2 separate regions of the Homo sapiens genome follow, and region 2 is linked to region 1. The links come from fine-mapping of genetic effects on gene expression. A gene starts in region 1. The other region holds a variant in brackets. All regions are shown on one strand. Distances are from middle to middle.

The links.
Region 2: its variant is fine-mapped to the expression of PTPRE in monocytes (Quach 2016, PIP 0.95).

What each region holds. Positions count from the first base shown.
Region 1 is chr10:127,904,432-127,909,799 of GRCh38, reverse strand. It overlaps PTPRE (protein tyrosine phosphatase receptor type E), which reads right to left and starts at 2,697. Exons shown (of 21, transcript NM_006504.6): 1 at 2,491-2,697. RefSeq lists a silencer at 2,734-2,853.
Region 2 is chr10:128,062,085-128,067,452 of GRCh38, reverse strand. It overlaps PTPRE (protein tyrosine phosphatase receptor type E), which reads right to left. Exons shown (of 21, transcript NM_006504.6): 10 at 4,273-4,370; 11 at 1,259-1,378. It overlaps AS-PTPRE (lncRNA antisense to PTPRE protein-coding gene), which reads left to right and starts at 5,028. Exons shown (of 3, transcript NR_136150.1): 1 at 5,028-5,326. RefSeq lists enhancers at 3,347-3,945, 4,285-4,494, 4,905-4,954, 4,286-5,368. The variant C/A (reference allele first, on the strand shown) is at 3,025.

The DNA.
Region 1 (5,368 bases):
AGCACATGCGCTTCGGGAAGGTCTCACTTCCAAGTTGTTTATCCATGGACAGTAGTCCTCAAGGCTCCACTGGTAGGCACATGGCTGGGCACTGGAGATACAGTATTGCCCTCTCTTCACAGAAACTATAGTCTGGCATACATTTCAGAAGCAACATGGAGGCTGGTGGAATTGGATGGATAAAGACAACACTGGGAAAGTACTGGAAGGGGAGGGGAGATCACAAGTTTGATTTTGACGCATTGAGTCAAGGGGCATTTGATATCCCAGGGAGAAATGTCAAGTGGGCAGCTGCGGAGGAGAACTACAGAGGAGTGGCCGGGCCTAGAAACACACCTCTGGCCTTCAGGGAGGGAATATTGATCAGCGGTGCACCTTAGACTAGGCTAATGGTGGTGCAGATGGAGCACAGTGGACCCACTGAGGCACAGCTGGGAGAAGCATACTTTCACCAGTTGAAACTGATGCATCTACCATCACCCCCACTGTGAATGCATCTTCTCTTGGGGTTTGGGGGCAAGATTTGCACACACAGCCACCTCTCTTCTCAGGGGCAAGGATGTACACACACAGCCGCATCTACTCTCAGGGGCAATGGTTTGCACACACGCATCCCTGGAGAAGAGGGGGCTCCCATCAGGGCACAGTGCTTCAGGACCTCCTCCAGGCTTCCGTGGAGGTGGCGGTGCTGACACAGGGAGCGCATCTCTCTCTGCCAGCTGTCCCCCACAGAAATGAGAGGTGGCCTCTGTGTGACTTTCCGCATTGTCCTCACTTTGTGTCCACACAGGGCCTCCAAGAAGCATCACACGTAAAGACAATAACACCCTCATCGACTTCCCTCAACTGGTTTGACTGGAACTGATGAGGGAGTGTGTGACTAAGTCCCAAGCCATCTGGACACATCCAGTGACCTGACCTTTTACAGAGACAAATCTAGCTCCTAGCTCTTGTCCACATGGGAACGGTCTGTTGGGGCAGGGAGGGGGCGGTGGTGACTCACAGGCATCACCAACATCAATGAACAAAAATCTTGGCCCCCAAGGTCAGATTCAGGGGCAGAGCCTTGTCTGGGAAGGGCTGGGTGGTACGTCAGGCCTCTCTCACTGACAGCGCAGCCCCCACCTCTTGGGCCTGCTCCACCTCGCCTCTGACCTTTTGCTCCCCAAATGCCAAGAGCCTGTGCTTGGAAAGTACAGACCCTAACCCTGTTCACACCACAGAGCTCTGCCCATACCATGCTGGCTGAGTGACCGTGGTGGTCAGACGCTTGCCCCAGCCACTGGCCCCCACCATTTCATGCCCTCCTCTGGCCATTATCCCAGTTTTGGAAACGACCCTCCACACCCCCCCTCCCCACCCACATACACACAGTTTAAATGGACAAGAGTCGTTAGTGTGCAGAGGCAGAACTTCATCCATCTTTGGGACACAAAGACCTCCAGACGCCCTGGGTCAAGGGGTACCTGGGGCCAAATGCAGAGCTGACTGGACATGGACACAGTAATTTCTGTATCACGTGATCACTCTTTGCTGGTGTTCATTCAACTCACCTATACGCTCATTCACTCTAAAATACAAGCAGAGAGCTGTATTCTTTCTTTGAGTTTCCTGGATTGAAACTCTGATGGAATGGTCACGACTCAAGACAAACCAATATCATAATTCTGCAAGTATAATTGCCTAATCTTTCTGGAAAGGTTTGCATGCCTGGAAGGAATTTAGGTCAGGTCCAGCGCGGTCTCCATCCGGCTTGGCTCTGCCTCCCCATCCTGTGGGTTGCCCGGCCTTCCCCAGATGGTCCCGGGAGCTCTCAGAATTGGCACCGCGCTCGCATCTGTGCTCAGGAGCCCTGTGAGGTCGTCGACCCTGCAAATCGCGGCAGTCCAGCCTGGACCACCTGCCAGGGTCTCCCTGCCGCATCTCCGACCCCCGGCGGCTGCTGCATCCCGCTCCACCTGCCTCCCTGGGAAGGCGCGGGCGCCCGCCCGGCTGCGGGGCAGCATCCTGGCAGAGCGCCGGCCCCTCCCAGAGTTGGCACAACTCGAGCCACTTTCTTCAAAGGCTCCAGCCTCCAGCCTCGAGTGGGCGCAGCCCCCCACGCGCGGCCTGCACCCCCTCTCTGTGTCGCCCGCTTTCACGTACGCCGCCCTGCCGCCGGCCCCCGCGCACTGTAGCCACCCGCAGACACGCGCGCCCTCCTCCTGTTTACCGAGAGGGAGCGTGAGCACTGCCACTGTGGTCGCCAAGTTGGGCTGGGGACTCCGGGTGAGGGGACGCGCCACAGGCCGGGGTCGGGGGTCGTACGGGCCCCAGCCGCTGGTACTGGGCGCGCCGCGGGGGCGGCGGGGCCGGGGTCCGGACTCTGAGCCCCGGAGCGGCCCCTCCCTCCCGCGGCAGCGGCCGAGGCAGCGCCCCGGCCTGCTTGGGCCTCCCGGGGTGCACAGTTCCCCACAGGGGCGCAGGGTCCCTGTCCGCACGCGCGCTCACCTCGGGGGGGCCGGTCTGGTCGCGCAGATCGCGCTGCAGCGGAGGCTCCGCATCTCCCGGGCGCCTGCCCGCCGCCCTCCGGGGCGCCCGGCTGTCTTCGCCGGGCGCGAAGAAGGGTCGCGGGGACGCGCAGAGGCCGTGGGTTCCTGAAGCCGCTCGCGCCGGCTCCTGCCGCCCGCTGTCCGCAGCCTAGCAGGAAATTTGTCCGGCCGGCCGCGTCCCGCCGCCGCCTCGGCTCCAGCTCCGGCTGTGGCTCCGCGGCGGGGGCGGGGGCCTGGGCGCTGCGAGGAGCGGGGGCGACGCCTGGTGCCCGGCGCGGGGAGCGCATCCAGGGCGCCCGCCCCACCTGCGAGGCGGGTATGGCCCTGAGGCCCTGCGGCCCTGCCCTGGGAGCACCCAGACACTGTGGGCATCCGTTTACTCAAGGCTGGTGCCCCTTCCGGGGAGGCCTGGTCCAGCCACTCCGCCGGGACCCAGGTGCGTAGACAGAGGGTCAGGGTATGGCAGGCACTCACACCTGGTGGAGAGCAAAGGCAAGGCCCTGCCTCTCCCTGCCCTATCCCTGTGCACCAGGAAGTGGCCTGACTAGGGACTCGCCCTGGTCTTGCAGCAGGTGTGGGACACGCAGGGCACCCCGTGCGCTTCTGGTGCGAGGAAGCTGGGAGAGCTGTGAGGTCGCTGGGCCTGGTGGCCTCCTCTGGAAAGAGGAGGGGATAAGGCGCCTGTCTGGGGGATGTAGAAGAGGGCTCGCTTGTCCCGAAGGCAGTATCTGTCAAAGTTAAAAACGCACAAAGAGAAAGAAGAGCGACAGAGCCAGGCACTGGGCCTGCTGTCTAGCCGACTTCTTCCAGGGAATTTCACTCAAGCTATTTAGGGAGCTTTCAGAGAAAAGGCAGTTCCCTGGAAGGAGCAGAAAAGACACTGGTGGCATGTTGGTTCTGAACCTTTGTGCCGTGCCCTCTGGATGGGGCCACGGCCCAGCCCTCATGAGGGAAGCTGCATTCTGTGGTAGGGACCCAGCTCATTAGGCTTATGAATGAATGAATGGATGGGGAGAAAGTGGCACTTACGGTGTGTTACCCCACGTTGCACCGATTGCCAGCCGACGACTCTTAGCATACTTAAGGCCTGTTTAGACAGAGCTACGGACCCCAAAGGCTGCAGAGCAATGGGTGCCTCCTGGCAGAGGCCACCCCCACGTGATTTGCCCAGAGTGGGACTTCCCCTCCACAGGGGCCGGAGAGCTGCGAAACCAGTGGAGAACTTGAGCTCCACCTCCCTGCCCTGCCCTGCCCATTTCTGTCCCTGGGGGCCTTGTCTAGCCCCAAAGCTTTAAACACCATCCGTATGGGAATGACTCTAAGCAGCACCACTCTGGGGCCCTCTCCTCCAAGCTCAGCTCCTCCTGGCTGTCTCCTGCTGTCTCAGACCTGCCTCTTGCTCTTACTTAGTTTCTCTGCAGTCGTCCCTGTCCCTGCCTCCGTGTCCCACCTCAAGTCCACCTCCCAGAGGGCCCAAGTCCACTTCCCACTGGCTTCTCCATGCATCTTGCCCTTTCATCTCACTGCCTGCGCCCCTCCAAAACCTGCAGTGGCTCCCCAGCTTCTGACCCACTCTCCCAGATGATCCATTCTTCACACTTGGTCCCAGGCACCTCACAAAGTGTAAACCGGGTCCTGCTAGCCCCCTGCTTAAAAGCCTCCAGGAATATTAAAACCCAAACTCCCACGAGGCTCTGCCTGACTTCCCTGGCTGCTCTGAGCCTCTCACCCCTGCCCGCTGGGCTCCAATCACGGCTCCTTTCTCTCAGTGCCAGAGCCAAGCTCCTTCCTGCCTGGGACTCCTCCAACCAGTGCACCTGGTTCCTTCTTACTGGTGGCTTCTGGAAGATCGCCCTGCATCCATCTCTTCTGCCACTCTCTTCCACATCCTCCATCACAGTTTGGAATTATTTGTGGGTTTATTGGCTCCTTTTGTGTCTGTCGTGCCCTCTTCCCCTACCCCCAGGGCTGTAAGCTCCAGCAGCCTAGGCTCTGTTGATCTCCATGGCTTCTCAGACTCAAGCTCCTAAAGCAACGTCAGTAGCCAGGAGGTGCTCAGTGAAGGCGTCTGGGCTGTCAGAGCAGAGGAGGATGGGCCCCAGCCAGCAGCAGCAGACAGCCTGGTCACCTCGGAGCCCAGCAGGGCGGGTGGCTCCCTCCTGAGTGCACCTCCAAGGAACAGCCCAGGTTGAGGTGGGGCCAGGTAGCACATGACGTCACCAGGCTTTGGATTTTTCTGCTGTTGTGGTCTACAGAGTCAGGCTTATGTACATGAAGGCCATAATTACAAAGCTCTGCTAAGCACAGTTTTGCTTGTTAACGCTGCAGGGCTGAGGAGGCAGAGACTGTGAGCTAAGAAGACAGAAACAACTTGCCTTTGTCAGACATCTGCTATTGGAAAGTGAACAGCCTTGGTAACATGATGGGGAGGCAGATGGCTCTTCTTTCCTCATAATATCTTCTCTGCTGGACCCCAAAAATTCTCAACCCTTTCTAAAGTCTACAGACATTCATCATTGTCACACAGAAGCGTGTTGTCAGAAGTGTTTGTGCCAGGGCCCTGTTGATTACCACAGGGAAGCCCTTCATCCTTCTTCACCATCTTCATTTTTGCCTCTCATAGGCTCAAGGTCCCTATTGACATCAGAGTCAATTCCCCTATCCTCCTCCCAGGCTTTGAGGAGCTCCTCTGCCTCTTGCCCTCCTGAACACCTCACCACTCCTCTTTTAGGGCCCTTCTTGAGTCCACAGAGTCCTCTTCAGCTCCCTGGCACACTGGCTGTCTGATCCTGTCTCAGGCCTGTCCGTGGCTGGCCTCCTGCCCGCTCTCCCCAGGC
Region 2 (5,368 bases), 160 kb before region 1:
TGTGTGCATGTGTGAATGTGGGTGCGTACACGTGTGCACCCATGTGCGTGTATGTGTGTGTGCACATGTGTGAATGTGTGCATGTGTGCACGTGTGCGTGTGTGAATGTGTGTGGATGTATGTGTGTGCACATGTGTGAATGTGCATGTGTGCATCTGTGCGTGTGTGGGTGCGTGTGTGTGCACATGTATGCATGTGCATGAATGTGTGTGCGTGTGTGCATGTGTGTGCATGTGAATGTGTGTGGGTGTATGTGTGTGCACATGTGTGAATGTGTGCATGTGTGCATGTGAGTGGGGTGTGTGTGCACATGTGTGTGTGAACGTGCATGCATTGTACGGTTGTGTGCGTGTGTGTGCATGTGTGTGCCTGTGTGTGGGTGTACGTGTGCATGTGCATGCATGTGTGTGGGAGTATGTGCATGTGCGTGCCTGTGTGTGGGTAGGTGTACGTGTGTGTGCCTGTGTGTGGGTGTGTGTGCATGTGTATGCCTGTGTGTGGGTGTATGTGCATGTGTGCATGTGTGTGCCTGTGTGTGGGAGTATGTGTGTGCGTGTGCATGTGAGTGCCTGTGTGCGCCTGTGTGCACATTTCTGGGAGAGATGCCAGCAGGGGATAGGATAAGAATAATCAGCTCATCCTTTTCCTTTTTTGCTGTGGCTTCTTGGAACCTCAGACACTTATTTTGTGACCTAATTATGCCAATGACTGTATCTTTAAATCCTGACAAAATGGTCTTCTGTCTTTTCTCTATGGTTTTAAACTTTCTTCTATATCTTGATTTCATCTGCTTTGCATACACATATTTTTACTGATCTCTCTCTTAAACCTTTTGGGGTGGTGGAACTAGCAGAACCCAAGTGTGGAAAATAACGAGGAGGTTTCAGACAGAATTCGGAAAGTGTTAGAAAAAAACCCCACCTCCCAGTCAGTGTGTGAAATGTCACTGTGCTACTGAGGGAGGACCTCACCCCCAGGCCCCTCCAATGACTGGTCTTCCTCCTGGAGAGGCCCAGAGGAGTCACTAGGAATTAGGAGCCCCCAGCACTGCCTGCAGACCCTTGTGCACCGGCCTCTGGTGTCTTGGCCCTCTTGCATGTCTGCCTATCACAGCCTGGCCACTGCACCCTCTCAGCCAGGGCTGCGACAGTGCCGGGCTGGGAGCAAAGCACTTCATAAATGCAGAAGGATGTTAACTCTGGGCATGATGCTCTCTGAAAATGATCTTTCTGGAAGGGCAGCAACTAGAGATGCTTACTGGCTGTATGCAGAACTTCCGGATGGTGTAGTCGACCAAAACCACGCAGTCCTCCACGCACACCCGGATGTTTCCATAGGTCCAGCAGCCTTGGTCGGGCCAGTACTGATGGCACTTTTCCTGCACGGAACAATTTAATAGAAGCAAATAGATCTGTGGGTGCAATGCATCATGACATCCCCCCACCCAACTACAGAAGGCCTCACACACACCAGCTGGAGTCACACAGCTCCCACAGCTGAGAAACAAGTTCACGTGTGTCGACCTCTTGAATGGGGAAACTGAGGCTGCGTAACTGGTGAACAGCAGCCTTGAAACTATGACTAGGATGCCCCAAGGCTTTCTGATGTAGACAGCAACAATGTCTCATTTCTTCATTCATTCACGAATCCCATACATTTTATTAACTGACCATCAACCAGTTATGCTGAGCCTGTAGCCTTCAGAGCTGGGCACCTAACTCCAAGTGACCCTCAGGCTAGAGGGCAAGGACGGTGCTCCCCCCAGACATTTCCCACTGGATTCAGCAATTTGTGTTTTTCCTGCTCAGTTCACTAAGGACAAAGTTAATTTGCACCACTGCCAGTCTGCCATTCAAGAGTGATGAACCTATGATTGGTCTAACGATCTTCATTTTTCTCTAGCAGGGACGAGGCTGCCGTGGAGTCTGCAGAAGAGGGTGCATTGCTACAGACAGGCCCATTTCTTTACCTTCCCGACCTCTGAAGCAAGAATGACCCAAAATACACGTTCCAGGAGCCCTTTCATTTTGCAGCACCGCCCGCAGCACCTGCCCGGTGGTGTCCTCCATCACTTCGCGAGTGAATGAGGACCCACCTCAAGGGGGAAAAGATCTACTTCATCTGCCAGAGAAACATGTCTGGAATGGAACAAGCCTGCCAGTAGTCAGAGAGTATATCCAGGGAATGGCCCCTGAGCAGCACAGCTCGTGGTCAAGCCTCCAGGATTAACAGTCTTATGAAACAAACAGCATCTGGTATTTAGTAGAGAGCAGCATCATTGTGTTATGACGGCTACCGACAACTTCCCCCTCCTTACACCTGGCTCCGGGCGGGGCTGCGGGGCTGTGGGTCACAGGCCATCTCTGATGCAGCCCAGGGGAATTGCAAATGCCTACATGTCCCGGTTTGGGTGAGTCTTGGCCCTATGGGGAGCCCTGGGGTCCCTCCTGAGCTTCTCACCTTGAAGGCTCTCCAGTAGGAACTGAGAACATGTGTCAGCCTCTCAAGGGCTCAGTGTTGGTGGCTGGTTTTATACCCCCTCCCTCTGCCTCCCTCCCACCCGATCATGAGATGCCAGGGCAGCTGTGTTTTGCAATGCAGAGCCCAGGATGTGGAAGCCAAGGAAACCACAACAGAAGTGTGAGCAATTAAGAAAAAGGGAACTCTATTGAGAAATGATTTCATCTGAATTGGTGAGAATGAGGACGCGGCAGCAGCCCAGCACTGAGTCACAGGAGTGGAAAAATCCAGTAGGAGGTTGTGGGGGAAGATGGAGAGAAAATGCCAGTGACACTTTCAGCAGAATGACTGAAAGAGGGAAGTGAGGGCGTCCTTGAGCCCCACTGCTTCTGTGCTGGTCTCATGCTTGGAGCACCAACCCCAGGAAGACTGGTCCCTATGGGCCATGGGTCACGGGGGACCCTGAGGCTCCTGATGAAGGGTCAGCCTCCTTTTCCCTCGCGTGGGTGTCCTCCTCCATGGCCGCTACAGCGCAGGCAGAGTGAAGAGTCCTGGGCTGGGAAT[C/A]CCCTACTTCCCTCTGTCACTCTTCCCTCTTCCCCATGACAAAGCATGACAAGGGCAAGATTTGCAAGGGCAAAGGGGTGGCCCTCCACAGTCCTGTTTCAGCTCCCCCCAGAGCAGAATGAAAGCCTCCATCCTATTCCTGACCAGAAACGGTGGCTGGAGGCTGCTTCCTGTGTTTTGGGTGGCAATTAGTAAGCTGGCACTGCGGGGACCAGAGCACCTCCCAGCCTGCCCTTCCTGTGGGCTCCTGCCACCCATCTTCTGCCCCAGCTGAGCTCCCCAAGGCCTGGTACTCCCATCTAAAAATGGCAGCCCTTCCCCACAGTCCTCGCTACAATGCCTGGGAACTGCTGGGGCCAGGCCAGCAGATGACTGAGGAGCTCAGGACACAGCAGGCCCTGAGCAGGGCCGGGCAGGACACACGGCTCCCACTGAACCGGGCCTTCATGCCAGAACACGCCAGAAGCACAGCCTCCTAACTTCGCCCCACCTGTGGTAAGTGTCCCTCAGGCTCCCAGTTCTTCTTTCATTCTGGAGAGTGAGCTCACTGCCTATGGCATGGCTCCCTGCCTGTCACTCAACCCCACCCCCGCACCCAGGCTCCCCACAGCCACCACTTCTCAGCCCTGAATTTGAGCCCCTACTCCTTGCACCTGGGACAGAGCTGGCCCAGCACAGCAGATGCTAATGAGTACTTGTTACATTAGGAAACGAATCAGTTCAACTTTTCTTCTTTGTCAATGATTCAAATTCTTATAACGTACATGCATCCTTTTTTGAATTAGAAACAGCTAATTAAATATATTCGGATGACAAATCAACATTTCTTCAATATACCAACGTTTTCCAAAAGCATTTCTCTAGTCTGGATAATAAGCGCGAAATCATGTTCATTTCTAGCCTGAGCTCTGCCGCATGACACGCTCAACATCCTAAAACTCTAAGATTCATGTCTCTCATCAGGCAGGCAGAGCCATGGGGCCAGCCGGGGGCCACTCTTACTTGGGAAAAAAAGGAAACTCTTGTGTCATTGTGTTATCACAGATTAGATAACAGTGAGATGCTGGGGACACAGGGGATTTGTTTCGTGAAGAAAATGCTGTAAGCCACTGCATGTGTTTGGGTTTTTTTCTGCAGTGATAGTGGGAGGAAGGGAGGGAAGTAGGAAAAGGAAGTGGTAAGAACATCCCCAGCCCGGCAGCAGCAGCTGAAAGGAAGTGATACCGGGGCCAGATGCCTGGAACTCACCTCTTTCCTTTCTTTCAAGTTTGTTAACATGACGATGGTCGCAGACTTTTGCTCCCAGACCATTCTCCAGAAGTCGTTAACCGTTTCCTGTTTGGGACCTGTGTGTAGAGGACAATTTCGAAGTCAAAAGGCATGAAGGGAAGTCCCTTTGGGGTCCCAGCCCCGGCACCCTGGCCGTTGGCCCCTGGACAGCTGTTCACTCCCTTCTCAGGCTTGTTGGGGACACACACGTCATGCCCTGAAGCGTTCCGGAACCGGTAGGGGCTGCCTGTCCTGCCACTCACCCACTCCAGCTAGGAACTCCTCAGTGGGCAAGATAATTGGGCCCAGGTTGAGTTATGACGTTCACAGGTAAGAAGCAGGGTTCAGATGAGGGCTGGGTCTACAGCCAAGTGTGGGAGAGCTGGTGAAAGCCTTGCGAGAGGCAGAGACTGGCCAGCCTCACCCTGCATTCCCAATCCCCTCCTCTTTGTCAAAATCTTACTCTCAGCATGGTGCTGTCCAATACGATATGAGCTAAAGTCCCTCGGGAGGGGGATGTGAACAACAGACAAAGTGTCACTAGGAGAAAGTCCTCTGCCCCTATCCACTTCCTGTCTGAGCTGCGGCTATTTTGCAGTCCCGAGCTAAGTGCTACGTGCTGAGGGGGATGGGCGGGGAGATAAGGAAGCCCCTGGCCCTGCTGCTGTCCTGCCGTGGGCTAGCTCCCTGTGGGTGTCTGCTGGCAAGAGAGAAACACATGCTTTCATCTGCTTCAGCCAGGATCGTCAGGTTTCCTGAGGTTTCCAGCTGGGCACATTCCTGATGGCCTCTGCGTGTGCACATGTGTGTCCTTTTTTCTTAGAGATTCTGCATTTGTAACAACTTCCCAGGTGATTTTGATGGACGCTGACTTTCAGAGCTCATTGCCCTAAAGACTCCTGGCCTAAGAGTGAGGAAGTCTGAGGAATCTGGTTTCAGCTCCACTGATATCTAACCGCACGTACACCAGGTCCTGCAGATGACAACCTCTGGTGGAACGGAGTGATGCTGGATTCAGTACTCAACACACAAGGTAGCCCTGTGCAAGGTGAAGGGCACGTTTTCACAGCTGAAG